Linked DNA regions of Homo sapiens. The protein of the gene in region 2 purifies or fractionates together with the protein of the main gene of each other region. This does not show direct contact. Each region holds a gene or a part of one and is shown on either strand. Other genes may lie near its edges.

Region 1 (10,194 bases), on a different chromosome or scaffold from region 2:
CCTGAGTCTGGTATCACAGTCCAGTGGCAGGAAATCAGTGTGATGCATCGCTGAGCATCAAGTACGTGTCAGAGCTGGTGCAGCTTGCTAGGGGGTTACAGATACGTCTGCCCTTGAGGAGGTTACATTTGAGAAGACCTGCTTATAGAACGGGCATGCTGGCTCATACCTGTAATCCCAACACTTTGGGAGGCCAAGACAGGAGGATTGTTTGAGCCCAGGAGTTCGAGACTAGCCTGGGCAACAAAGCGAGACCCCATCTCTAAAATAAATAAATAAAAAGACATGGTTAAAAAAAAACCTTAATAATATAAGGCAGAAAATGCTAAGGCCTGGGAGGGATGCAAACTATGAACGACTGGCAGAGAGCGCTGTTAGCTGAATGTGCTTCTTGAAGAGGGAGAGCGCTTTATGATGAAGACAGAATGTGAGCTGGCCGGTCAAGGAAGGGGAGCTCCTCAGCAGTGGCAAGGGGAGTGAAGAGTCTGGGAGGGAGGAATATCTCAGGCAAGGTAGCAGCAGCAGCAGTGCAGAAAGTAAAGGGGTCAGAAGAGGGAGAGACTGGAGTGTATTCAAGTGTTGGTGCCCACCTGGGTTGGCTGAGCCATTGGGTTCCTGAAGGAGTTGAGCGATGAGGCTGAGAAGGAGACTCCAAGAATTAAAGACCCATCGGCAGTTTCTGGGTTCCAAGAAGAGGAAGCAATGGAAAAAGGAAACCTTGCACTGAAGCCTCAGATGAGGGTCAACAGGACGAGATGAGCCAAAAGTGACTCGAAGCTTTTGGGTCCCTGTGATTAGCGGAATGATCCAACATGGGTCAGGAGGGAGGGGCGGCAGAGAATGGAAGTTGACTTCCGATTTAGACAAACTGCGTTTAGCATGAAGGTGAAAAACCAAACAGGAAGTATCCAGACCTATAAGTTAAGGAGGCAGATCCGGAAATGAGATCTGGGAGTCTCCGGCATAAAGGGTGGCACCGAAGTCAGAATGCGGAGAGGGTCTTCATGGGAGTGTGTAGGGAGACCGGAAAGACACTGAGGCCTGAGCCTCAGAGAGGGAAGAAGGGGCCAGTGGAGGAAGAAGGAGCTGTCAGAAAGGCAGGAGGCCACGAGGGGAGAGAGCACACGAAGAAGAGGCAGCCGACAGCGGAAAACGTATCTGAGGGTAAGGACAGCTGAAGGAGAAATAACAAGGGCAATTCACAGAGAAGAAAGGAACAGAAGTAGATTTCAGATTAAGAAGGAGGTAAGCCCGGAGTAGTGGCTCATGCCTGTAATCCGGCACTTTGGGAGGCCGAGGCAGGTGGATCACCTGAGCTCAGGAGTTCGAGACCAGCCTGGACAACATGGTGAAACCCCGTCTCTACCAAAAATACAAAAATTAGCCAGGTGTGGTGGTGCACACCTGTAATCACAGCTACTCCAGAGGCTGAGGTACGAGAATCATTTGCATATGGGAGGCAGAGGTTGCAGTGAGATGAGATTGCACCACTGCACTCCAGGCTGGGCAACAAGCGAGACTCTGTCTAAAAAAAAAAAGCAGGAGTCTTTAGCAGATTTTGAGGACAGCTTTATTGCTCTTTCTTGAAAATATCCTACTTCTGATCAGGGAGGCTCACTTTGCTAAGTGCTGATGGTCCAGCATGCCTCGAGGGCATGTGAAGCCATCTCCATGGTGAACTGCAAAACAGCTCATTCTAATAAGAAGGCACTTGAGAGCTGGCACACAACATACACCCTATCTCCCCAAGATAAAATGCTTAAGTATTTATGAGCTTGCAATACAGGTGTTAGATAATGTCTCCTTACCCTGTGTTAGACATCACTCAGGCCCAGAGGCAAATTCCATTTCTTGAATTATTCTACAGTAAACCAGGCTGTCTTTTGAGACAGGGTCTCTCTCTCTCACCCAGGCTGGAGTGCAGTGACACAATTACAGCTCACTGCAGCCTCGACCTCCTGGACTCAAGAGATCCTCCCACCTCAGCCTCCTGAGTGGCTGGGACCACAGGTGCATGCAACTACGCCCAGCTAATTTTTGTATTTTTTTGTTGAGACGAGGTCTCACTATGTTGCTCAGGCTGGTCTCGAACTCCTGGGCTCAAGCGATCCACCTGCCTTGGCCTTCCAAAGTGCTGGGATTATAGGCTTGAACCACCACGCTCAGCCAAACCAGGCTGTCTTAACATTTCACAAATTCAAAGTCAAGTCTAGATTAGGGATTCCTTCTGCTTCAGTTTCCTCAGAGTGAATAGTAATTACAGCCACCCCTCCTTTTTTCTTTAGAAACAGGGTCTCACTGTGTCATCCAGTGCCCAGGCTGGAATGCAGTGGCATGATCATAGCTCATGTAATTGAATTCCTGGGCTCAAGTGATCCCCCTGCCTAGGCCTCCACTTAGGATTAGAGGTGTGAGCCCTCATGCCTGGCCTATAGCCAACTTTACTGACGGCCTTCTCTGAGCCAGGCTCTTTACAGGTATCTCATTTACATGTATAAAGTGAATATTATTATACCCATTTTACAGATGAGAAACCTAGGCTTAGAAAGATTGTGTGACTTAGCCACAGCTGCTAAAGCTTCACAGAGGCAAAGGCAGTTGCATGAGATCGAGTGTTTGGATTCTATAAGCCAGTAAAATTTCCAACATTTATTTTGAGTTCCATAAAGGATTGCCTGCTGGGTGTTTAAGTTATTTACCAACATCATGTAAGAAAGGAAACATGAAGATTTTAAAGAGGATGACAGCCTGGGCCCTGTCTCTACAAAAAATACAGAAAGTAGCTGGGCATCATGGTGCACACCTGTAGTCCCAGCTACTTGGGAGGCTGAGGTGGGAGGATTGGTTGAGTCAGGGAGGTCAAGGCTGCTGTGAGCCATGATAGTACCACTGCACTCCAGCTTGGGCAACAGATAAGAGACCCTGCCTCAAAATAAATAAATAAATAAATTTAAAACATAAAATAGAATAAAATAAAAATTTAAAAATGCAGGATGAACTTAATCTCAAAAAGGACATTGTTTTGCATTTAATAACTTTAACGAGAGATCTATTTTTATAAAACATTTCAGGTACAAAAAGAGTATAGATAATGTAATGGACACCAGCTTGCCATCCACCCAATTTAGGAAGTAAAACATTACAATGGGAATTAGAGACCTCGTGGTCCCCTCCGTGACCCCATTTCCTTCCCTCCCTACTGGTAACCATTTTCCTAACATTGCCGTTCCTCACTTCCCAGCATACTTTCACACATTCACTACATACCCATACAACTCTGCTTTTCTAGCGCGGCCAATCTCATCAGTGGACTACGAGGGGCAGTGAGGACCCAGTGGGGAACAGGCTCCCTGAAAACCCTGCACAGAACCCACTGTATTTGGGAAACACCGCTCTAGACGGGGGCAGGGGAGGGAAGGCCTGACATTCTAACACCCTCAGTAAGCAAAAAAGACCTTCAATATTTAGGTAGGAGTCAGAGTTCCTGCCCTTACTTTATTACATCTCTTAAGACGAACTGACATTTGCATCAGTCCTTTCTAAGCGTGTTTGCGGGTAATTTCACGAGAGCGCCCTCTCATGTGACGCAGTTAGCACGCGCTTGGTTTCTCAACCCGACTGTGACACCTTCATTACACAGACGGGTCCAAGAGACCCAGAGAGGTCTGGAACTTCTCCAAGTCACACAGCAAGTTGTGGAAGCGGGATCACCACTCAAAACTCCCAGCCCCGGGCTTCCCGTTCTCCCTCAGCGCCAACCCCGTCGCGTTCAGGGTACAGAGGAAGCCAGCGAGCGCTGTGCTCTAGGGTTTCCACTGGCGGGAACCCAACAAAATCATTTTGCTGCTATTGCCTATTATGCATTCTACCATTTCCAGCAAAATGTGAGTCGTAAAAGTAAAACCAGGATATTCTAAACTCCAGCAAAGAAAAAACCCAGGAGAGTGGAAAGTTTCTGGATACTTATACAATTGCTCCAAGGCATGAAAAGCGAGTGTCTCCCCCAGGCGCGCCTCCCACTTTACAGAAGCAATGGGTTCGAAGTCGGGAAGCTGCCCGGGGCCCGCAGAGCTGCAGTCGGCGGGGCGGGAGGGACCCGGGCCGCAAGCCGCGCGTACCATGGCGTCCGCGCTTACCATGGCGTCCGCGCTTACCATGGCGTCCGCGCTTACCATGGCGTCCGCGCTTACCATGGCGTCCGCGCTTACCATGGCGTCCGCGCTTACCATGGCGTCCGCGCTTACCATGGCGTCCGCGCTTACCATGGCGTCCGCGCCGTGGCCCCCAAGCGACGTGGGGAAGCGCACGTCCCGGACCGAGAGCCGGGAGATCCTGCCGCGCACCATGGCCCCTGCGCCCCGTGGCCGCGGCCCCCGTGCGGTCAGGACTGGTCGGGATCCCGAGCGCGCGGCGGGAGGGCGGGAGGGCGGGAGCGCGGCAGCGCCGCGAGGCGGGGCACCGTCAGGGCATAGAGGGCGCTCATTGGCCGCGCGGCCGCACCCCGTGAACTTGGCCCCATGGGAGCTGCAGTCCCAGCTCCGGGCTCCCGGGGGCGCACTCCGCCTTCCGCCGTTCCCTTCTCAGCCTAGACGGAGCTGACCCCGAGAGGGTTCGCTCAGGGTCGCCGGGGAACCTGGGCAGGCAGGAGGCCTCGCGCCCGGTCGGCGCCTCCGCGGGACCCTGCTCTGCTCGGATGGAAGACTCGTGAAGGGACCTGCCCGGGAGCCGCGCCCTAGAGGGAGAAGTCGGGTCTGAGCGAGTGCATTCGCTCAGCGGCAGATTCCGGCCAGTGGCTCAGCTCCCAAGCCGAGGCCGCTGGTTGTCGCCAGCGTACCCAGGAGAGCGGTGCCCTAGAAAATGCTAGGTCTCTTTCAGTGCCCACAGCCTCAGTTTGCCACCTGATAAATTAAGAGGCAGGTCATCATTGATTACACCCGTACTGATGCAGATGAGGTCCCCGTACCGTGCCTCAGCCTGTAATCCCAGCACTTCGGGAGGCCGAGGCGGGCGGATCACCTGAGGTCAGGCGTTTGAAATCAGCCTGGCCAATACGGCGAAATCCCGCCTCTACTAAAAACAAAAATTAGCAGGGCGTGGTGGTGCGCGCCCGTAGTCCCGGCTACTCGGGAGGCTGAGGCAGAACTGCCTGAACCCGGGAGGTGGAGCTTGCAGTGAACTGAGATCGCGCCACTGCACTGCAGCCCGGGCGACAGAGCAAGACTCCGACTCAAAAAAAAAAAAAAAAAAAAAAAGATGCTGGGCGGCTCACGCCTGTAATCCCAGCAGTTTGGGAGGCCAAGGCGGGCAGATGGCGAGTCAGGAGATCGAGACCATCCTGGCTAACACGGTGAAACCCCGTCTCTACTAAAAATACAAAAAATTAGCCGGGCGTGGTGGCGGGCGCCTGCAGTCCCAGCTACTCGGGAGGCTGAGGCAGGAGAATCGCTTCAACCCAGGAGGCGGAGGTTGCAGTGAGCCGAGATCGCACCACTGCACTCCAGCCTGGGCGACAGAGTGAGACTGTGTCTCAAAAATAAATAAATAAAAAGAAATAAAAAGAAAATCCAAAGTAAGCAGAAGAGAAGAAATAATAAAAATTAAAGCAGAAACCTGTGAAATTGAAAACAGGAAAGCAACAAAGAAAAATCAATGAAAACAAAAGCTGGTTCTTTGAAAACATTGATAAAATCAATAAGCCTCTAACCAGGCAAGAAAAGAGAACGCAAATAACTAATATCAAAAGTGAAATAAGGAACATTACTACAGATCCGACGGACATTAAAATGATAATAAAGGAATACTATGAATTCTATGTCCACAAATTTGATAACCTGGATGAAATAAACCAATTCCTTGAAAGACACAATCTGCCAAAACTCACACGAGAAGAAATGGACAATCTGAATAGGCCTATATCTATTAAATAACTTGAATAAATAATAGCCTTCCAAAAACAAAAAGCACCAGGTCCATGGTTTCACTGGTGAATTTTACACCAAACATTTAAGGAAGAAATTACAACAATTCTCTATAATCTATTTCAGAAGATAGAAACAGCCACAAACTGACTTTATGGTGAATGATTGATGCTTTCTCCTTAAGATTTGGAACAAGGAAAGGATGTCTGCTTCCACCACTTCTATTCAACATAGTACTGCAGGTTCTAGTTAGGGTAATATAATAAGAAAAGAAATAAAAGGCAGATTGAAAAGGAAGTAAACCTGTTTATTCTTGGATGACATGATTATTCATCTTTGTTGAAAACTGTCTTCATTGGACTTAACGAAAAAAGCTACTGGAACTAATATTGAGCTTAGCAAGTTTGTAGGATACAAGGTCAATTTAAAATCTATAGTTGATGTGCTAGTAATAAAAAATTGGAAACAAATTAGAAAACAGTATCTCTTAAAACAATTGCATTGAAGATATAAAACAGGACAAGTTTAACAAAAATATGCAAGATTTGCACACTGAACTATAAAACATTGCTGAGAAAAAAAGATCTAAAGAAATGTAGAAATGTAGAGAAATTCATATTCTTGGATTGGAAGACTCAATATTGTTAAAATAGCAGTTCTTCCCAAATCGAACTACAAATTCAATGCAATCTAATCTAAATCACTAGCAGGATTTTTTTGAAGAAATTGACAAGTTGATTCTAAAATTTATATGGAAATTTGAATAGCCAAAATAATCCTAAAAAAGAACAAGGCTGAAGAACTTAAACTACTTGGTTTTAAGACTTGCTATACACTAATCGAGTCAATGTGAAATTGACATAAAGACAGACAAGTAGATCAATGGAACAGAAGAGGTCTTGAAATAGTAAAAATACAAAAAATTAGCCAGGCGTGGTAGCACGCGCCTGTAGTCCCAGCTACTCGGGAGGCTGAGGCAGGAGAATCATTTGAACCCGGGAGGCGGAGGTTGCGGTGAGCTGAGATCGCGCCACTGCCCTCCAGGCTGGGCGACAAAGCGAGACTCCGTCTACAAAATAAAAACAACAAAAAAAAACAGGGGCCAAGAAAATTCAACGAGTAAGCTAATCTTTCCAACAACTGGTGCTCGAACAATTGAATATCCATAAGAACAAACAGAACAATCCTGGATCATTACCTTATATCATACACAAAAATCATCTCGAAGTGGAATATAGATCTAAATTTTAAGAGCTAGAATTACAAAACTTCTAAAGAAAACACAGGAGAAAATCTTTTTGTACTTGGATAAAGCAAACTTTCTTAGGACACTAAAAGCATGAATCATAAAAGAAAAACATTGCCAATTAAATTATCAACATTAAAAATGTTTTCTCTTTTATGAAAACCATTAAAGAAATGAAAATGCAAGCTGCAGATTGGAAGAAAAATATTTGCAAAACATATCTGTTAAAAGGACTTGTATGCAGAATACTGAAAAAATTACAACTCAGTAAGATGGCAACTTGATATAAAAAATGGGCAAAAGACTTTTTAATAGACATTCCACCTAAGCAGACATATGAATTTGAAATAAGCTTATGAAAAGACTCAACATTATTAGTCATTAGGGAAATGCACACTAAAACCACAATGATGTACTACTAACACGCACCAGGATGGCTGCAATTAAAGTGACTGGCAATACCAAGTATTGGCAAGGATGTGAAGCAGCTGGAACTCTCATACATTGCTGGAGGGGTATGAAAGGGTACAGCTTCTTTGGAAAATAGGTTATCAGTTTCTTAGAAAGTTAAGCATTCATGTATCATACAACTCAGTAATCCTACTCATAGGTAATTATCCAAGAGAATTTAAAACCTATGTTTAAAATAAAAACTTGTATTTGAATGTTCATAGCAGCTTTATTTGTGATAGCCTAAAACTAGTAACAACCTAAACATCCATCAATTGGTAAAGGACAAAACCAAGATGTAGTACACATCCACACAATGGAATATTACTGAGCCATAAAAAGATCTCAAAAGCATTATGCTAAACGAAAGACATCAGACACAGTGACTACATATGATTCCATTTATATAAAGCCCTAGAAATGTACAATTATAGTGACAGAAAACACTCAGTGGTTGACAGAGGTCAGGGGTGAATGGAAGAGATTGACTGTAAAAGGGCATAATGGAATTTTCTGAAATGATGGAAATGTTCTATGATTCTGGTTTCATGGTGGTTTCATGGCTGTCTACATTTGTCAACAACTCATCTAGTGGTACACTTAAAATGGTGAGCTTTGTTGTATGTAAATTATACCTCAATAAAACAAAAAATGTTGCTTTGGGGTGCTGCCTCCTCTTTGAATTTGATTCTAAGTTTGAATTTTCTTTGAAATTGCACTTAAAACTCTGCGAAAATGTTCTCTTGTATTTCTTTTAGATTGGGTTTCTTCTGGTTCCACGAATTTTTCAAAATTTCTGCTGAAGTGAAGCCACCCTTTTCTAACTTTCTAGCAATGGTAAAGATTACAAAAACCAACCAAACCAAGTTTGCCATCTAGTTCCATGGTATATCCTCTCAATGTTTTAGGAGACTAAGACTTTCCATGAAAATAGTGCAATTATGAGTGAATAAATGGAATTTGATAAACTTTAAGGGCCACACCACTTTAATTCAGTTATTAGAATCACTGTCAACCTTTTTGGCCAACTGCGAAGTTTTTATTTCTCTCATCCCTATTGTCACAGGCTAGTGACAATTTTTTACTTGGATTTTCAAAGTCCTCCAACTTACTCGTTAACTTGACCTTTAAGATAGAAGTGAAGCTGGATTGAACCCCTACGCCATGTCCCTGTGAAATCCAGTGTCTCTCCAAGTATCTCTGGAAGTACTTGGTGAACTTTTCTCCTACTTACCTGATTTATTTCCTGAATTTATTTCCCCACTGCGTTTAAACTAGGTTATGAAATCCATCCCTATCCTTTTTTGTACCTTGTCATTGTACCTCTGGCCGTGACCCCAATCCCTTTTCTTTCCTAAAGGTCACTGACTCACTGTTATGTGTAGCTGATTTGCAGGAAGGTTTGGGGTAGCAAGGACTCTGCAAGCAACTTAAAATTGAATACCGCCATCTGCTTCTTAAAGGTCCCAGGGACCATTCCTGCTACTGGATAAATTTCACATATTATCTATTTAGCTTTTATTGTTTTACTAAGTCTTATTTCTAATTTTTTTTTTTTTTTTTGAGACAGGGTCTCATTCTGTCACCCAGATTGGAGTGCAGTGGTGCAATCACAGTTCACTGCAGTTTCTACCTCCTGGACTCAAACAGTTATCCCACCTCAGCCTCCTTAGTAGTTGGGACCACAGGTACGCACCACCATGCCCAGCTAATTTTTGTACAGATGGGGTTTCGTCTTGCTGCCCAGGCTTATCTTGAACTCCTGGGCTCAAGCGATCCTCCAGACCAGGCTCCCAAAGTGTTGGGATTACAGGCATGAGCCACTGCACCCAGCCTCCTTCCTATACATTTTAAAATTCAACTCATAAATTATTATTGAATTGCAGTAAAACAGCTAATTGAACATTCTGTCCAACAGTTTTGCAACAAATGGTTTTCTAATATTGGAAAAATAGACATTGAAAAACTCTTTTAAAAAAGATTCGTTTTGGGGCGGTTGTGGTGGCTCACGCCTGTAATCCCAGCATTTTGGGAGGCTGAGGTGGACGAATCACCTGAGGTTAGTAGTTCGAGAGCAGCCTGGCCAACATGGCAAAACCCTCTCAATTAAAAATACAAAAATTAGCCGGGCATGGTGGCACACGCCTGTAATTCAAGCTACTTGGGAGATTGAGGCACAAGAATTGCTATAACCTGGGAGGCAGAGGTTGTAGTGAGCCAAGATCACACTGCTGCACTCCAGCCTGGGCGACAGAACGAAACTCTGGGGAAAAAAAAAATTGGAGTTTTCAATATTTCCAAGATTTGGTATGCTCTCTCCACAGTTAATAGTCTTGTAACTTTACATTTAATACAATGTTGCATATATTGCTGAAGTTTTGTATACACAGCACTGAAAATGTTTTGTATAAACTGTCACTTTTATGTGATAATTTGAGTTTCGTATTTTCTACTGATACAGCTGTTGGTATAATGAGTATCAGTCAGGGTCTCAACTGGAAGCAGATGGCATGCTCAAATTAAGATAAATCAAGAGGCCGTGCAGTGGCTCACACTTGGTAATTCCAGCACTTTGAGAAG
Region 2 (9,348 bases):
CCCCTCACCTCTCCTGTGGACCCAGCTTTTGAGGGGTCAGGAGAAGAATGTTCAGTCCCAGCTGCCACCACTCTAAAGTCCCCTAGAAACAAGGACTAATACAGGTGGCGTGGGAGAGGGCCCAGGCAAACAGGGAGGTGGGGTACCCCGGTGGGGCTGCAGTGGGCCCTGCGGAAAGCTTGCTGGAGGTGGGGGCCTAAGGAATTCAAGGACTTGTTCCAGGAACCCAAGGAACGAGTGGGCTCTAACTGCTGCAGCATATGGGAGATGCCAGGAGGAGCTGGCTGTGGCAGGCCATCCCAGTCCATCAGACAACTTGTAGTGGATGAAGATGCAGTGTCCATGGCCAGAAGAAACTCCCGTGGATGCTCAGGCCAAGGCTGCCAGAAGCACGAGGAGGGGCAGCATTGAGTGTCATCGGGAAAAGGCAAAGTGATGGTCCTGAAGCTGCCCCATGTGGCCAGTCCCTTTTTGGGAAGCCTGAATAAATCCATTTCCTGTGCACTGTGTGGGAAGCCAACCCCTCTTCAGAGGTACTTATGGGGAACCCCCCATGTGATTCTATAGGCTCCTTTACTCCCATATAAGTATTTTCTCTCTGTGTGCACCCCCCGCCCCACCCCCCCAACACCCCACACATATCATCTATCTGTGATTTTGAGATGACTTTTTTTTTTCACATTTCAGCACCTCTGAACTCAACAGGATCCTACACTTCTTATAGGCCTGGCTTGATGCTGACATCCTTCAGCCCCAGGGAAGACCTAAAGATCTCCAGGTCTTGAGGCACCTGGAACACCTCCACCTGAGACCACTTTAACATGATTTCTCTGCTTGAGGGATTTTGGACCATGCTGTGTGTATTCAGCCCTAAAACATGGGCGAGTGCCCGCTTGCAGTTCAAATTCTCAGAGGAAGTTCCCTGTACTCCACCCAGTGCCAAGTTTAGTTTGTGCAAATTTCCTTAATGTCCCCTCCTGTACAACAGGCTTATTTGGTGTTAACCCTCATATCGGGGGTCTAACTCTTTGCTTTTCCAGCTTTTGTGCTGGAATATCCCATTAAACTGTCCATGTTGGGTATTTTTTCTTTGTTAGTAAACATTTGTTGCATATTGTTGATAGCATTTTAGATTTGAAGAAATAACTGACAAAATCAATATCATCTGTTTCATCATTACAAATAGACTCATAGCTCTTTAATTTTTCCATTTAACACTTTAATTTTCCATAGGCCTAGATTTTCAAGAAGTCCAATATCTCTCACTTGAAGTGTCTTTTCCCTGGAGTAGATTGGGAGATTTGAGGGATATCTGTCCAAAGATGAGACAGTCTGTTTCTAGTTTCCCATCCAGCCTGATGGGGCGTCTACAGTTTTTACCACAAGGTGTCGCTGTTGAACAGATTCTGGTGCAGTCTAGTGCATAGCTGTCCACTTCTAGAGTGATCACTTGCTGGGCCAAGTTCCTCTCCTTAAGTGGTGTCTCACATTAAGGTTCCCAAATTACAGACTCATTAATTCACCCTAATAAGCTCATCCAGGCAGTTTAGGTCTTCAGGGGCTTCCAGCCTCCAACACACATTGGGCCAAAACCAGCCTGTACCACCAGCTCCAAGCCCTGTGTTGAATCTAGGTCATTGGTCCAGATGCCCCTTCATTCTGGGCCTGTGGTGTCCTTTCCAGACAGCAGACCTCAGTTAAGGGCATCCCAGTCCATCAGAGAAGTTCCAGGATCACAGACCCTCAAAAGGGGCAGTGTTGAGGATTCAGTCTGTTTTCTGCCCAGAGGCCCCATTAAGTATGTTGTATCACCTCCTCCCCAGGCTGTTTCTACATAACCCAGGGAAGCCATTCAGGGAACAGCTGCCTTATGAATGAAAATCCACCCCTAGACAATGTGCTATGCCATCCCAGCCAGAAAAATTGTTGGCAACTTCCCTTGCCAAAAATGCCTGGTATCACAGAATCTTATGCCATTATTGCTTTCTGGTCCAGGGTCCTCCCACCCTTCAAAAGGATGGCATACAACTCCCACCGTGTGTGTGTGTGTGTGTGTGTGTGTGTGTGTGTGTGTGTGTGTAGAGGCTGTTCTTGAGGGCAATAGGTGAGCTTTTGTTTTGCTTTGTCAGGTCTACATGGTAAGGGGGAAGGGCTAGAATACTAAGATAGTATTAGGATAATGGATGGAAATATTTTAAAGCAATTCCAAGGTGGAAGGAACAGAGAGAAAAGCCTTGGAGCAGCTGGAGAGAACTGTCTTCAAGGAAATGGACTAAGTTTTGTCTAGAATGTGTGAGGTAAACTTCTTCTCCAGCTTCCCACAAAGACACTGGTGGGGTGGACACTGCTCTGGACGGTTTTGGCAGTTGGTTTTGTGTTTTGGAGATGAAGTGGCCCTGGCATCAAGAGGACGTGGGACACAAGCAGAGGCTTCCAAGGGGTCCCAGGAGCACCTCTGTCCAATACAGATGGAGAAATTGAGGACCAGAGGAGGGGCTTGTCCAAAGTCACCCAGCGAGTTAGAGCCCCCAGTGGCTTTTCCCATTAAAAATGAACCCCAGGCCAGGGGTGGTGGCTCACACTTGTAACCCCAGTGTTTTGGGAAGCTGAGGCAGGAAGATCATTTAAGGTCAGAAGTTAGAGACCAGCCTGGGCAACAGAGAGACCCTGTCTCTACTAAAAAATTAAAAATTAGCCTGGTGTGGTGGTGTGCACCTGTAATCCCAGCTACTTGGGAGGCTGAGGTGGGAGGATTGCTTGTGCCCAGGAGTTTGAGGCTGCAGTGAGACATAATTGAGCCACTGCACTTCAGTCTGGGTGACAGAGCAAGACTGTCTCAAATAACAAAAAAGAAAAGGAAAAATAAAAAAAAAGAACCCCAAACAGCCCACTGTGAGCCATGGTGACCCCAAATCTCCAGCGTCCCTGCGGGGTCCCAGGCCGGCTCAGTGCAGGTATTCTCGCACAGTGAGCTCCTTCAGGGTGATGCCTCGGGGCGTGGGCCTCCGGAGCTGGCTCTCCTCCAGCCTCTCCTGCAGAGTCACGAAGTCCTTGCCCAGCGCGTAGGCCAGGCGGACCATGGCGTCCAGCAGAGGCGCATAGTAGCGATGGCCCTCCCGGGCCTGCAGGCGCTGCAGGGCCCTCTCTCCGGCCGCGAAGGCCTCGGCGGGGCGGTCGAGGTCGCGGTGGCACAGCAGCACGGCGCACAGGGCCGGGACGGCGGCCGCAGGGCAGTGGGCGGTGAGCTTCTCCTGCAGCGGCAGCACGCGCAGCAGCAGCTCCAGGGCGCGCGGGTACTGGCCGGCCCGCAGGCAGCCGAAAGCCTCGCGCAGCTCCGGCCGCGTGAGGAAGTCCAGGAACTCCCGGGAGCGGCGCACGCAGCGGATGGCGTAGAGCAGGCCCAGGTACTCCTGCAGGGCGCGCCGACGCTCACAGATCATCTCCTCAGCGAAGTTCCCAGTCAGGTGCTTCCTGGGAAACTCCACGTCTTCGATCTCCTCCCTGAACGTCTTCAGCAGCGCTTTCTGGAGCTTCGCGAAGTCGGAATAGCGCCGTTCCAGGACGGCCTTGTTGTTGTCAAAGCTCCCAGTCTGGATGACGATGATTTGGTACACCTAGGGCGCAACCAGAGAGAGCTGTGGCCACCTCCCGGCGGGGGCTGCGGCGGACGGAGCACACCCAGAGTAAAGTTAACCAGGCCGGTGTAAAGCATGCCCTGAAAACGGGCGATCCTTATATGCAATTGTTTGTTTGTTTGTTTGTTTGTTTGTTTATTTATTTATTTATTTATTTATTTATTTATTTTTAGAGACAGGGTCTCGCACTGTTACCCAGGCTGGAGTACAGTGATGCGATCATACCTCACTGCAACCTTGAACTTATGGGCTCAATTGACCTGCCCACCTGAGCCTCCTGAGTAGCTGGGACTACAGGCACACCCACTACCTGGCAGATTTTTTGATTTTTTTTAAAAGATGGGGTCTGGCTGTGTTGCCCAGGCTGGTCTCCAACTCCTGGGCTCAAGCGATCCTCCTACCTGGGCCTCCCAAAGTGCTGGGATTACAGGCATGAGCCACTGCACCTGGCCCAATTCTGTTTTAAATTGCTATTGGCATCAGCTGAGTCAACCCTGGAACAACAACACAGCAAGGTGGGGACATCTGGGAGGAGAAAGGGCAGAGGGTCCTGCCCTGCAGGCTGCTGGGGTCCCTCTTGGCTTTACTTGCTAAAACTGGGCCTCTGTTTTCTGAACTGAGATGCTGTGTTTTCCAAATGTTTCACACTTGGGAATTAGTTTTACGTACAATATAACATCATTTAGGTACACTGGTGATGCCGTTATATGGTAAGAAAATCAATCCTTTTCAATCATCTTTCAAGAGAATCCTGATTACGGGCAATTATATATTAAGGGCAATTATAACCCATGCATCTGACTCCAGAGCCAGATTGCATGGGTTGTAATTATAGCCCTACCATGGTCTAGCTGTGTGGTTTTAGATGAGTAATTTAACCTCTCCGAGTCTCACTTTTCTCATTCATAAAACAAGGATAGGCATAGTGCCTACCTCACCCAGTGAGGATTAAATGAGTTAATGCACTGAAACCACATGGAGCTGTGCCCGGCATGCCATTGGCATTCAGTGGTAGCTATGTTATTTATCCCGGTCCCAGGTAAGTGAAGGAGAAGGATGAAGTGTGGCTCTTAGGCAGTCTTTAACATCCCTTAACACAAGCTAAAATTCCATTCTAACAGGGAGAGGAGCAGCTCCCAGGCACAGGGCTTTCCCGAAGCCACAGTAACCAGCTAGAATTTAATAACAGCACATAGCTTTCCTTGTATTGACTTTCCTTGTATCGACTTTTCTAGTATGTTACTTTTGCTTTGTGCCATGTGATATTGGTTTTCCATTTAAGGTATTTCTCTTTGAAATAAATGTGCTTCATGTTTTTAAAAAGTGATCCAATTTAAAGAAAAAAATAAGTAATAATAATTAGAACAGATACAGTGATATGGCAAAATTGGTGAAGAAAGGACACAGGTGACTGACACCTGATAAGATGGGATTAAACTGGGCTATTTCCTTCTTGGGACCAAGAAATATGACTTATATGGTTCGAATCCTCACAGACCCTAGCAGGTGCTGAGCCTGAAATCTTGCTCTTTGGCCATTTTCTCCAGAAGAAAGCTGTGAGTTAGTGTGTTGACCCATTTCATAGTTGGGAAACCTGAGGCTCTACAAGACTTATTCAGGGCCAGGAAGGAAGCAGAGTGAAAGAGGCTCCACCATTTCCCAATCTCTGCTTACCACAAACTTAGAGACTTTTCTCTCCTCGATGCGAGCTGAAGCGATCTCAAAGAGCAGTTTGACGTGCTTCCAGCGGCATTTCTGGTTCTGCCAGTACTGCTGAAGCTCCCGCGTGGTCATGCTGGAGTTGGAGCTCAGGCCACTGTGTGTGTCTGGAAGGACAACACCCTTAAGGATCTGCACCCTGTCAGTGCACTTCCGAGGCATGGGCTTGGGGAGATGGCTGGGTCTATCTGAGATGGCATATCAGAACTCCTGAAGAGTATTGAATATCCCTCTCTCCCACCCCGCCATTTATAGGCCCAATTGGGGCATCAGACAGACCTCTGTGCCCAGCCTGGCAGAATCCACCCTACCACCGACAATCCCAAATAGCCCATCACCCCCAAGTGGTTTCACAGCTTTGGAATGCGGTGCGGGCACTTTGCATCGTCCACTTCTGGTCTGTAGATTGGCCATGGTGAAATCCCTGCTCTGGACAAGCAGAGACGGTGGCTTGTGTGTTTCTGTGCTCCCTGCAGCCCTGACTTCGTGACTGTTGCCACGACTCCTTGAGCACACATCAGTGGGCAGGGGAGGCAGTGAGGAGGATGTTATGTTCCAGCCTCAGCGGGCTGGCCCTTCCTAACCTTCTCATCTAACTGCCCACATGCCGGGCTCTTCTCGGACGTGCACTGCTCTGCCTTGCATCCAACCCTCTATTTCCACGCCTGGAAAACGAACACAGTGTTTCTTAAACCCCACTTGAGCCCTGCGCCACTCTGAGGTTCTTAAGAAGCACAAATAATTGTGCATTTTATTGCAAAGGGCATGGGTCCCAGCCCTTTTCCAGTCTACCCTTCAAGACCCAGCCCCCACATCACTGCAAATGCCCCTTGGCATTAGAGTAAGAGCTTCCCACCTTGTTCCTACAGGTTTTTCATTTTATTTATTTATTTCTCGTGGCACGTGTAACTGTTTCTCACTGATCTGTTTCTCTACCAAACCTCAGGACTAGTGCAGTGTTTGATTTCTTCCTGTTTCTGTTTCTCCAGTGCCCTGCATAGGGCCAGGAACAGAGCAGGTATTGAATAGGGCATCTCGAAGGACTGTAAGAAAAGATCTGTTCCAGGAGATGGCACTACAGCAGATGCTGTCCATGCCCCAGGCTGGACCGTGCCCTCTTGGCACCCACTTTTCCAGAACATGCCACTGGCTTCCCTGAGGGCTTTCTAGGGCCATAGCAGCAGGCCCAGGAGCGTCCCTTCTCCTATGCAGGGCAGGACTGGTAGATAACAGCCCGGCTTCCTCACCCCTAGGATAGGACAACCCAGAGATATGTTCCAGGGTCTCCCAGAAGACCCCCGCTGGGGTTGAGCTTCAGCCACCTACCGTGCCTATCTGTTCACTGATGTCCTGCCCTGGCCTCTTGCCCTTTCCTTCCATTCCCACTCCCCTGCCATGACTCCTAGGACCGTCTCCCGGATAAACAGCTTGCACTAGATCTGTGTCTCAGTGTCTGTTTTGGGATAACCCAAGTTACAAGAGCTGCCCGGGCCTCTTGCTGCATCCCCCAAAGTGACCCACATTTGTACTTTGAATGTCTTCAGACCTCTCCCCCAGACCGAGTCTCAAGCCTCAAGCCCACCTAAGTGCCCGTCAGGTCCTGGGTGCGGGAGGTCGGGGCCAGTGGCTGGTGCTTCCTGCTGGGTCCTTGCCGTGCACTGGGTTATGGGTCCCATGCAGCCAGGGCTCCCAGGGTGCTCTGGACTTGCCATGCTCCAAGGCTGCCAGAGGAAAAAGAGAACAGTGAGGACCCACTCCAGTTGGGGTTCCCGGTGGCTCCTGGGGTGCCTAGGAGCTGTGTCATGCCCCCTCCTGGCAGGCAGAGGGAATGACAAGGGCCCCACGGCTCAACCTTCCCCACTCTCCCAGCTGCCAGATCCCAAATCTGGGTCTGCCCCTTTGCTGGGCAGGTTACTCCAAGGCAGAGAAGACCCTTCACCTATTGCGATGATCCATATGTTATTGAGGTGATCCTTACGTATTGCTCAGAGTTTTAAATGAGATGATTTCAAGTAAAAGTATTGGCTTTAGTGATTACTTGAAAGAAAGATGCTGGCTTGTCTAGATACTCAGTTTTATGTTACACATGCGAATGAAGTCTCAGTGTTCAAGTTGAACATGGCCACTCATGCCTGTAATCCCAGCGCTTTGGGAGGCTGGGTTAGAAGGATCACTTGAGCCCAGGAATTTGAGACCAGCCTGGCCAATGTAGTGAGACCCCGTCTCTAGAAAAAATAAAAAAAAATTATCCAGGATGCACGCCTGTGGTCCCAGCTACTTGGGAGGCTGAGACAGGAGGATCCCTTAAGCCCAAGAGACTGAGGCTGCAGTGAGCTATGATGATGCCACTGCACTCCAGTCTGGGTGACAGAACAAGACCATCTCAAAAAGAAAAAAAGAAAGGTCAGTGTTCAGAGCAGGTAGATACTGGTATGAATCTTCTATCGATCAATCAATCAATAATCTATCTATCAGCAAAATTAACTGATAGCTTATTATACCCACTTCATACCCATCTAGGTTCTCCATAGCCCCTAATCTAGTTTAATGCTCACAAAAGTCTATCATTACCACCACATAACAGATGAGAAAACTGAGGTCTAAAGTCACGCAGCTGGTGAGTGTGCGCAACAAGCAAAGCTGAATTTGTCTCCAGTGCTTGTGACGTGCTGGCTGTGCACTTCACACCCAGCACACACTCTTGCACTAACCTGAACACTGTCTGCACTCAGGACTGTTTACATCTCCCTTTTATGATAAGGGAACTGAGACTTAGAGTTGCCAAAGATGAGGAGCTGGTGAGTGGTGGGCAGGATACAGACCCAGGCTGGGCTGACTTCAGAATTCTCTCCACCTTACTCAGGGAGGGAGAACAGGCAGCTGGGATCTGGTTTACATAATAACTCTGTCTGTGACCCGGATAAGTGGAAGGGATGACCTGGTAGCTGGCAAGTGACTCAACTTCTCTGTGCTTCTGTTTCCTATAAATTGGGGATAATAACAGAACCCACGTTCACAAGGCTGGGGTGAGGATTCAGTCAGGCAGACTCTGAAGCCTCAGCTCAGGGCCCTGTCCATCCCAGGGACTGTGTAGTACCCCCGCTTTTAGTGTCTGTTAAGTGCTAGATGTTTCCAGAAATATTTGTGAAATAAATGACTAAATTAAGGTGGATTGGAATAGAATTACAAATGTTTGAGACAACTTAGAGAAAGGGACAATTAAAACATTAGATCGGCTGGAGGGAGTAGCTGGTATACTGACTGGTTAGGCATGGAAATTCAAGACAAGGAAGGTGCAAATGACCTGAGGAAGCTGCCAGTGGAACATAGAGGTAGAGCTGGGACTTGAACTCTGATCTGTTGGATTCTGGGCTCTTGGTCTGAACCCCTGGGCTGACTACGGCCTAGAGAAAGATAGAGCCAGTGCCTCCCTGGCACCCCCTGAGCACAGATGGGGGCGGGAGTCATGCATGTCCCTGAGCACAGCCAGCGCCTGTCCCTTGCTCCAGGGGTGAGAGCCGCTGGCCTGGGAGAGGGGAGGTCAGCTGGGGCCTGGAGCCTGCACTTCAGGGGGAAGTGCTTGCTGTGTCGGGTGAAAGGAACCCTGGGGCCTTCTCCGTTTGGCTCTGCACAGCCATCCAGTGGGCGGCCCTCAGGGACCCTCGATCCAACCTCACCTTTTACAGATGGGCAAACAGAGGCACGGAGCAGGGGCCTGGCTGGCCCAGGGCTGCACGTTCTTGAGCATGCCGTCACGGGCACCTCTCGCTTGTCTCTTGTGCCTGTCAGGGAGTCAGGAGACATCGCCTTCCATCCTGACCAACCGTGTGTCCTTAAGCAAGTGCTTTAATATCTCTAGGCTTCAGTTTCCCTACCTGATAAATGTGGCTACAAGCCCCGTCCTGTTGATAAGATGATGGATGACTAGGGGTGGGTTCCCTACATTCTGACTGGTGCCTAAGTGAGACAGTGGATGGTTTACGTGATTCTTGGT
Region 3 (6,654 bases), on a different chromosome or scaffold from region 2:
GGTCTCAAACTTCTGGTCTCAGGTAATATGCCCTTCTCGGCCTCCCAAAGTGCTGGGACTACAGGCATGAGCCACCGTGCCCGGCCTGGGTATTTCTTTATAGCATTCCAAGAATGGACTAATACAGTCTCCTCTGCCCCAACGCCACTGGGCCTGCAAGGAAATTGTCCACGTTCACAGAAAGTCCAGCTGGGAGGATGTCCCCAGCTAATGTGCACAGAGTGAATCTGGAAACCAACACCCTAGAAAAAAGCCACATAAAGACATCTCCAAGCAGAGTCCCAGACGGGTCCTGCCTTGCCTCCCCTGCTGCATGTCCTCAACCCACTCCCTCCACCTCCCCACCACCATCCCATCCTTCGCTTCCTACACAGGTCCCCTCCTCCACTCTTCACCCCATCCCTCACTTTCTACACCCACCACCTCCTCCACCCTTCCTCCCATCCCTCACTTCCTCCACCCATCACCTCCTCCATCCTTCATCCCATCCCTCACTTCCTACACCCATCGCCTCCTCCACCCTTCACCCCATACCTCACTTCCTACACCCATCACCTCCTCCACCCTTCACCCCATACCTCACTTCCTACACCCACCACCTCCTCCACCCTTCATCCCATTCCTCACTTCCTACACCCACCACCTCCTCCACCCTTCATCCCATCCCTCACTTCCTACACCCATCACCTCCTCCACCCTTCATCCCATCCGTCACTGTCTACACCGATCACCTCCTCCACCCTTCATCCCATCCCTCACTTCCTACACCCACCACCTCCTCCACCCTTAATGCCATCTCTCACTTCCTACACCCATCACCTCCTCCACCCTTCATCCCATCCATCACTGTCTACACCCATCACCTCCTCCACCCTTCATCCCATCCCTCACTTCCTCCACGCACCACCTCCTCCACCCTTCATCCCATCCCTCACTTCCTACACCCGTCACCTCCTCCACCCTTCATCCCATTCCTCACTTCCTACACCCACCACCTCCTCCACCCTTCATCCCATCCCTCACTTCCTACACCCGTCACCTCCTCCACCCTTCATCCCATCCCTCACTTCCTACACCCACCACCTCCTCCACCCTTCATCCCATCCCTCACTTCCTACACCCGTCACCTCCTCCACCCTTCATCCCATCCCTCACTTCCTACACCCACCACCTCCTCCACCCTTCATCCCATCCCTCACTTCCTACACCCGTCACCTCCTCCACCCTTCATCCCATTCCTCACTTCCTACACCCACCACCTCCTCCACCCTTCATCCCATTCCTCACTTCCTACACCCACCACCTCCTCCACCCTTCATCCCATCCCTCACTTCCTACACCCATCACCTCCTCCACCCTTCATCCCATCCCTCACTTCCTCCACCCACCACCTCCTCCACCCTTCACCCCATCCCTCACTTCCTACACCCATCACCTCCTCCACCCTTCACACCATCCCTCACTTCCTACACCCACCACTTCCTCCACCCTTCATCCCATCCCTCACTTCCTACACCCACCACCTCCTCCACCCTTCACCCCATCCCTCACTTCCTACACCCGTCACCTCCTCCACCCTTCATCCCATCCCTCACTTCCTACACCCACCACCTTCTCAACCCTTCACCCCATCCCTCACTTCCTCCACCCACCACCTCCTCCACCCTTCATCCCATCCCTCACTTCCTACACCCATCACCTCCTCCACCCTTCATCCCATCCCTCACTTCCTACACCCATCACCTCCTCCACCCTTCATCCCATCCCTCACTTCCTACACCCATCACCTCCTTCACCCTTCACCCCATCCTGCACCTCCCCACCCTTCTTGATCCTTTACAGGCGGTGAGCTGACACCCCACGCCCACCACAGAGACAGGGCGCCATGCTGGTGGGGAATGCAGGATCCACTTTTTTATTGCAGGAAGACTATGTCTAGAGCGAAGGCTACACAGACCCCACGATGGGGGAGTGGGGGCACCCACATGCGGGGGGAGAGGGGGCAGGGGCGGAGTCACAGCAAGCATGGCCTGGCACAGTCCCCAGCACCAGGGATGCCCAGGCAGGATGGGCCAGCAGCCAGGACAGGCTCGGGTCCCCTCCTATTGCAGATGCCCTCTCTCCCCAGGGTCGGGCAGGGCCTGAGGTGGGAGAGGCCTGGAGGTGGGCAGGGCCCCAAGGAGATTGTGCTATCAGGGTGTGTCCCTGAGAAAGGGCCGCAGACCCCTGCCCAGCCTCACTCTCTCCGGCACCTTCAGAACCCAGAAGCTACTGCCAGGACAGGAGAGGAGGCAACATCAGCTGCTGGTGGGCCCTGGGCCAGCCCAAGTTTTGGGGGGACCCAGCTCTGCTCAGACACAATGCCAGCTCTTCTGGGAGCCCGGTCCACGTGCTGGATAGCAACACACACGCACGTGTGCACACTCCCTCTCTCTGAGTGTGTCCAATAAACATTTGTTGAGTAAACACTCACACGAACACAGAGGAAAACAAACATGCTTGTACCAAATCAGACACGAGCAATCTGTTACCTACATAGTCCCACCTGGCCACATGACTACAGAGACACATGTGTGCAATCTCTCTCTCTCTCTCACTGCACAAAAGGGCGTGCGCACACACACACGTTGCTTCCTCACACCCAATAAGACCAAAACCTCCATCTCACCTTCCCTCACTAACTTAGCTGCCATGCTCCGAGCCCCGCTGTGGAGAGACCCACATGGTACAGAACAAAGGGCAGCTTCCAGCCAACAGCCAGCGAGGAACTGAGGCCTTCAGTCTTGCAACAGCAAGGAACTGAATGCTGCAACAACCACATGAGCTTCTAAGAAGCAAATCCTTCCCCGATCAGGCCTTCAGATGAGACCTCTGCCTGGCGAATGCTTTGATTGCAGCCTCCTGAGATCCCAAGTAGAGGACCCAGCCAACCTGCACCCAGGCTCTTGACCCACAGAATCTATGAGATAATAAGCATGTGTTGTTTCTGGTTGCTACATTTGTGGTCATTTGTTACACAGCAGTAGCTGACTGATACAGATTTGGAACCGAAAGTCACATTGCTAGAGTCATGTTGCTATAGAGTGGAACACAGATCGTGTCCCTCAATCAGGACAAACATATTTACAGATAAATGCTCTCAGATAAACCATATCACCCACTCCCCAAAATATAGTCATGCTCATACAGGCACAAAGATTCACACAGACACCTCACACATATCCAGTCTTGCTGACAACCACACACAGGTATCTACAACTACCCACCTCTCTGTATACCCTACACCACTATTACACACACAGACTGCCACAAAAACATATCATCCCAGACAGACACACACAGGTATACACGCAGATGCACTTAGATACAAGTCACCCATCCGCGCACCCCAGGTTGCACAAATACACCATTCCATAGCCACTTCCGTGTATGTTGGACACAACCCTGTGGGGTCACACGAGTGTGGTGTCACTCAGACTCTCTCAAAAAACACCCAGAACCTCATGGCTGCAGGTACACTCGACTCCAGGACGCCACCTTCCCGGGCAGGCCCTGCTCTCTGGGGCACAGGTGGTGGGGAGGAAGTGGGTGGGGCAGACCTCTGTCCGGGGCGCCCTCGGATCCTGCTGGTGCTGGCTCCCATCGGCTGTCCCCCCACGGGGGTGTAATTGATGTATCTCTGGCCGGGGCCCCGGGTACCCCCTCCTGAGCACCCCAGGTCCCCACCCGCCATGCGTTGCTAACGTCTCTGTCTTGGTGGAAGAGGCGGGTCCCGGGTGGGCGGTGTCCGGGAAGCCCCTCCACGCCCATGGTGCCTCTCCAGCGGGGCAGTTGTGCTGTGGATGTGGCTGGTCCCGGGGGTGGGATTCGGGGCTGGCAGGGGCACTGCTGCAGGCCCTGTGGTTATTGCCTGGTGGCCTGAGGCCCATCCCACGGGCCCCACACCCCACTGTGAAGACAGAGGAGAGAGGTGCGTCTGGAACCGGAGGAGTGGGCACAGATCAGAGGTCACGACGGGCCGGGTGGGCTTGGGTGTATGTTAACACCAAATAGGAGAAAAAAGAAAAAAATATCTGAGGCCGATGTGCATTTTCAACTCCCCCCTCCCCCAGAAGGTCACAGTGATCAAATGTGAGGGACAGGACGCGCAGGTCTGGCTGGGGACACCCCAGGGAAAGAGATGGAAACGGGGAAACGCAGCCTCCTCTGGTCCTGGTGGGAACAAGCAGCTCCTCTTGCCAGCTCCCCATCCTGTTTTCCCATCTGCAGGACAAGGGGGCCACCTCCGGCTCTTGGTTTTGGAGGGTACAGACAGAACAGGAGGGTGGAGAGAGAGCAGGGGAGGAAGAAAAGCCCCAGCCCTGCCTCGGGGTGGGCAGGGGCAGCGGAGGGGGGGGCGGTGGCCTCGGTTTCCCCAGCCGAGGTGTCGGAGGAAGGATGAGAGAAGAGGAGGAGGCCGAGGAGGGTGTCGGTGTTGGGGGAGGCAGCGGGGGTCAGTGGGGGTGGGCGGCGGGCAGGCGGGCGTTCCGGGCTCACATGAGGGTGCATTTGCCCTTGACGCGGTCTGTCCTCTTCTGCTTCCCGGAGCGCTTGCCGTCGATGTTGAGGCTCATGTTCCGGCGCGTCTCCAGCGTCAGCAGCTCCTGGAAGAGCTCCTTGACGTTGTAGTTCATCTTGGCCGAGGTCTCCATGAAAGCGCACTTCCACTCCTGGGCCACCGCCTGCGCCTCGCGCGTGTCCACCTCCCGCTGCGTCTCATCGCACTTGTTGCCCACGAGCATCACGGGGATGTCCTCCACGCTGCCCTTGATCTGCACGATGAGCTTGTAGATGGGCCCCAGCTCCTCCAGCGACTGCTTGCTGGTGACGGAGAACACCAGGATGAAGGCGTGGCCCTTGGAGATGGACAGGCGCTGCATGGCCGGGAACTGGTGGCTGCCGGTGGTGTCTGTGATCTGCAGCGTGCACACGCTCTTGTCGCAGCTGATCACCTGCCGGTAGGTGTCCTCGATGGTGGGGATGTAGGTGTCGCGGAACGTGCCCTTCACGAAGCGCAGCACCAGCGAGCTCTTGCCCACGCCGCCCGCCCCGAACACCACCACGCGGTAATCGTTACTCTGTTCCGGCATCTTCCCCGCGGCGGGTGGGCGGCCGGGGCCGGGAGGGCTGGTGCCAGCTGCAAGAACCCCAGACCGAGCCTGTGCAGAGAGGAGGGTCACACGTCAAAGGCCACCCAGGCTTGAGGGGACAGCCCCACGCCCCGGGGAGGGAGGAGGACATGGCGGCTTCTCAGAGGAGGTGGCTGCCGTGCCTCCTGCCTCCTGAAAAGGCCCATTTGCTTGTGGCTGACTTTGCAGTTCTGTCCCACAGGCGGGCGCACAGCCAACACCCTTTGCTTACTTCTCCCTAACAAAATCTGGGGCCTGAGCTTCCCCGGGGGACGCTGAGCTAGGAGAGGCGTGGGAGACGCCGGGATGCCCACGAAACTCCTTCCCCGGGTGTGGGTGTCCCTTCCAGGCTGTGCCAGCTTCCCCCTCTCTTCCCAGTGTGGCAGGGGCCCCTGGAAGCTAGCAGGCCTGGCTTCCACCTCTCGCTCCACACCTGCCTGGCTCTGAGACCTTGCCGAGCCATCATGCCACCCTGAGCCTGTTTGGTGGCTCAAACGGTGCCCGTCTCCAACAACCATGGGTCCCCTGCTCTTCCGCCAACCCAGAGATGGCCAATCCTCATGGAAGCCGCACATGGTCGGGTGTTTAAGATGCATATGTCAGGGCCGCAGCCCTAGGTGTGATGAATCGGTCGGCCAGGGCAACGGCCCTGGGAACTCGTATTTTATTTTATTCTTCTTATTTATTTATTTATTTTTAGACAGAGTTTCGCTCTTGCTGCCCAGGCTGGAGTGCAATGGCACAATCTTGGCTCGCCGCAACCTCCACCTCCCGGGTTCAAGCTATTCTCTTGCCTCAGCCTCCCAAGTAGCTAGGATTACAGGCATGCACCACAAAGCCCGGCTAATTTTATATTTTTAGTAGAGGCAGGGTTTCTCCATGTTGGTCAGGCAGGTCTTGAACTCCTGACCTCAGGTGATCCACCCACCTCGGCCTCCCAAAGTGCTGGGGTTACAGGCGTGAGCCACTGCACCTGGCCTTCTTATTTTTTTTAAAACCAAGTCTTGCTCTGTTGCCCAGGTTGGAGTTCAGTGGTGCAATCTCGGCTCACTGCAACCTCTGCCTCCTCGGTTCAAGCAATTCTCCTGCCTCAGCCTCCAGAGTAGCTGGGATTACAGGCATGCACCACCACACCCGGCTAATTTTTGTATTTTCAGTAGAGACGGGGTTTCGCCATGTTGGCCAGGCTGGTCTTGAACTCCTGACCTCAGGTGCTCCTCTCGCCTCGGGCTCCCAAAGTGCTGGGATTCCAGGTGTGAGACACCGCATCCAGCTGGAACTTGTATTACAGGGCTGCTCTCCTCACCTGCCATAAATGGGATCCTGAGGCTGGGAATCTGAGAACCACAATTTGCAAATCAGGGCACTGATTCCCAATAGCCGCCCCAGGGAGGAAGGGTCTTGCAGCCCAGGTGGGACACAAAAATACAAAATCCAGAAGCTGAACGGGAAAATCGCCACTCCCTAAACTCTAAAATCAAACTAT

Evidence for each region.
Region 1: the proteins of SNX20 (region 2) and ENOSF1 purify together in Homo sapiens (affinity purification with mass spectrometry; 2 studies listed by BioGRID and IntAct, with this or other methods). This does not show direct contact.
Region 3: the proteins of SNX20 (region 2) and DIRAS1 purify together in Homo sapiens (affinity purification with mass spectrometry; 2 studies listed by BioGRID and IntAct, with this or other methods). This does not show direct contact.

What each region holds. Positions count from the first base shown.
Region 1 is NC_000018.10:708,242-718,435, forward strand, and holds the start of ENOSF1 (mitochondrial enolase superfamily member 1), read right to left. Parts: upstream 4,390-10,194; 5' UTR 4,347-4,389; coding exon 4,263-4,346; coding exon of another isoform or gene 4,119-4,262; intron 1-4,118. UniProt on the Homo sapiens protein: Plays a role in the catabolism of L-fucose, a sugar that is part of the carbohydrates that are attached to cellular glycoproteins.
Region 2 is NC_000016.10:50,670,461-50,679,808, forward strand, and holds the end of SNX20 (sorting nexin-20), read right to left. Parts: intron 7,076-9,348; 5' UTR 7,067-7,075; coding exon 6,937-7,066; intron 5,462-6,936; coding exon 5,310-5,461; intron 3,615-5,309; coding exon 2,946-3,614; 3' UTR 1,169-2,945; downstream 1-1,168.
Region 3 is NC_000019.10:2,712,678-2,719,331, forward strand, and holds the end of DIRAS1 (GTP-binding protein Di-Ras1), read right to left. Parts: exon of another isoform or gene 5,635-6,654; coding exon of another isoform or gene 5,602-5,634; intron 5,199-5,601; coding exon of another isoform or gene 5,130-5,198; coding exon 4,533-5,129; 3' UTR 1,890-4,532; downstream 1-1,889. UniProt on the Homo sapiens protein: Displays low GTPase activity and exists predominantly in the GTP-bound form.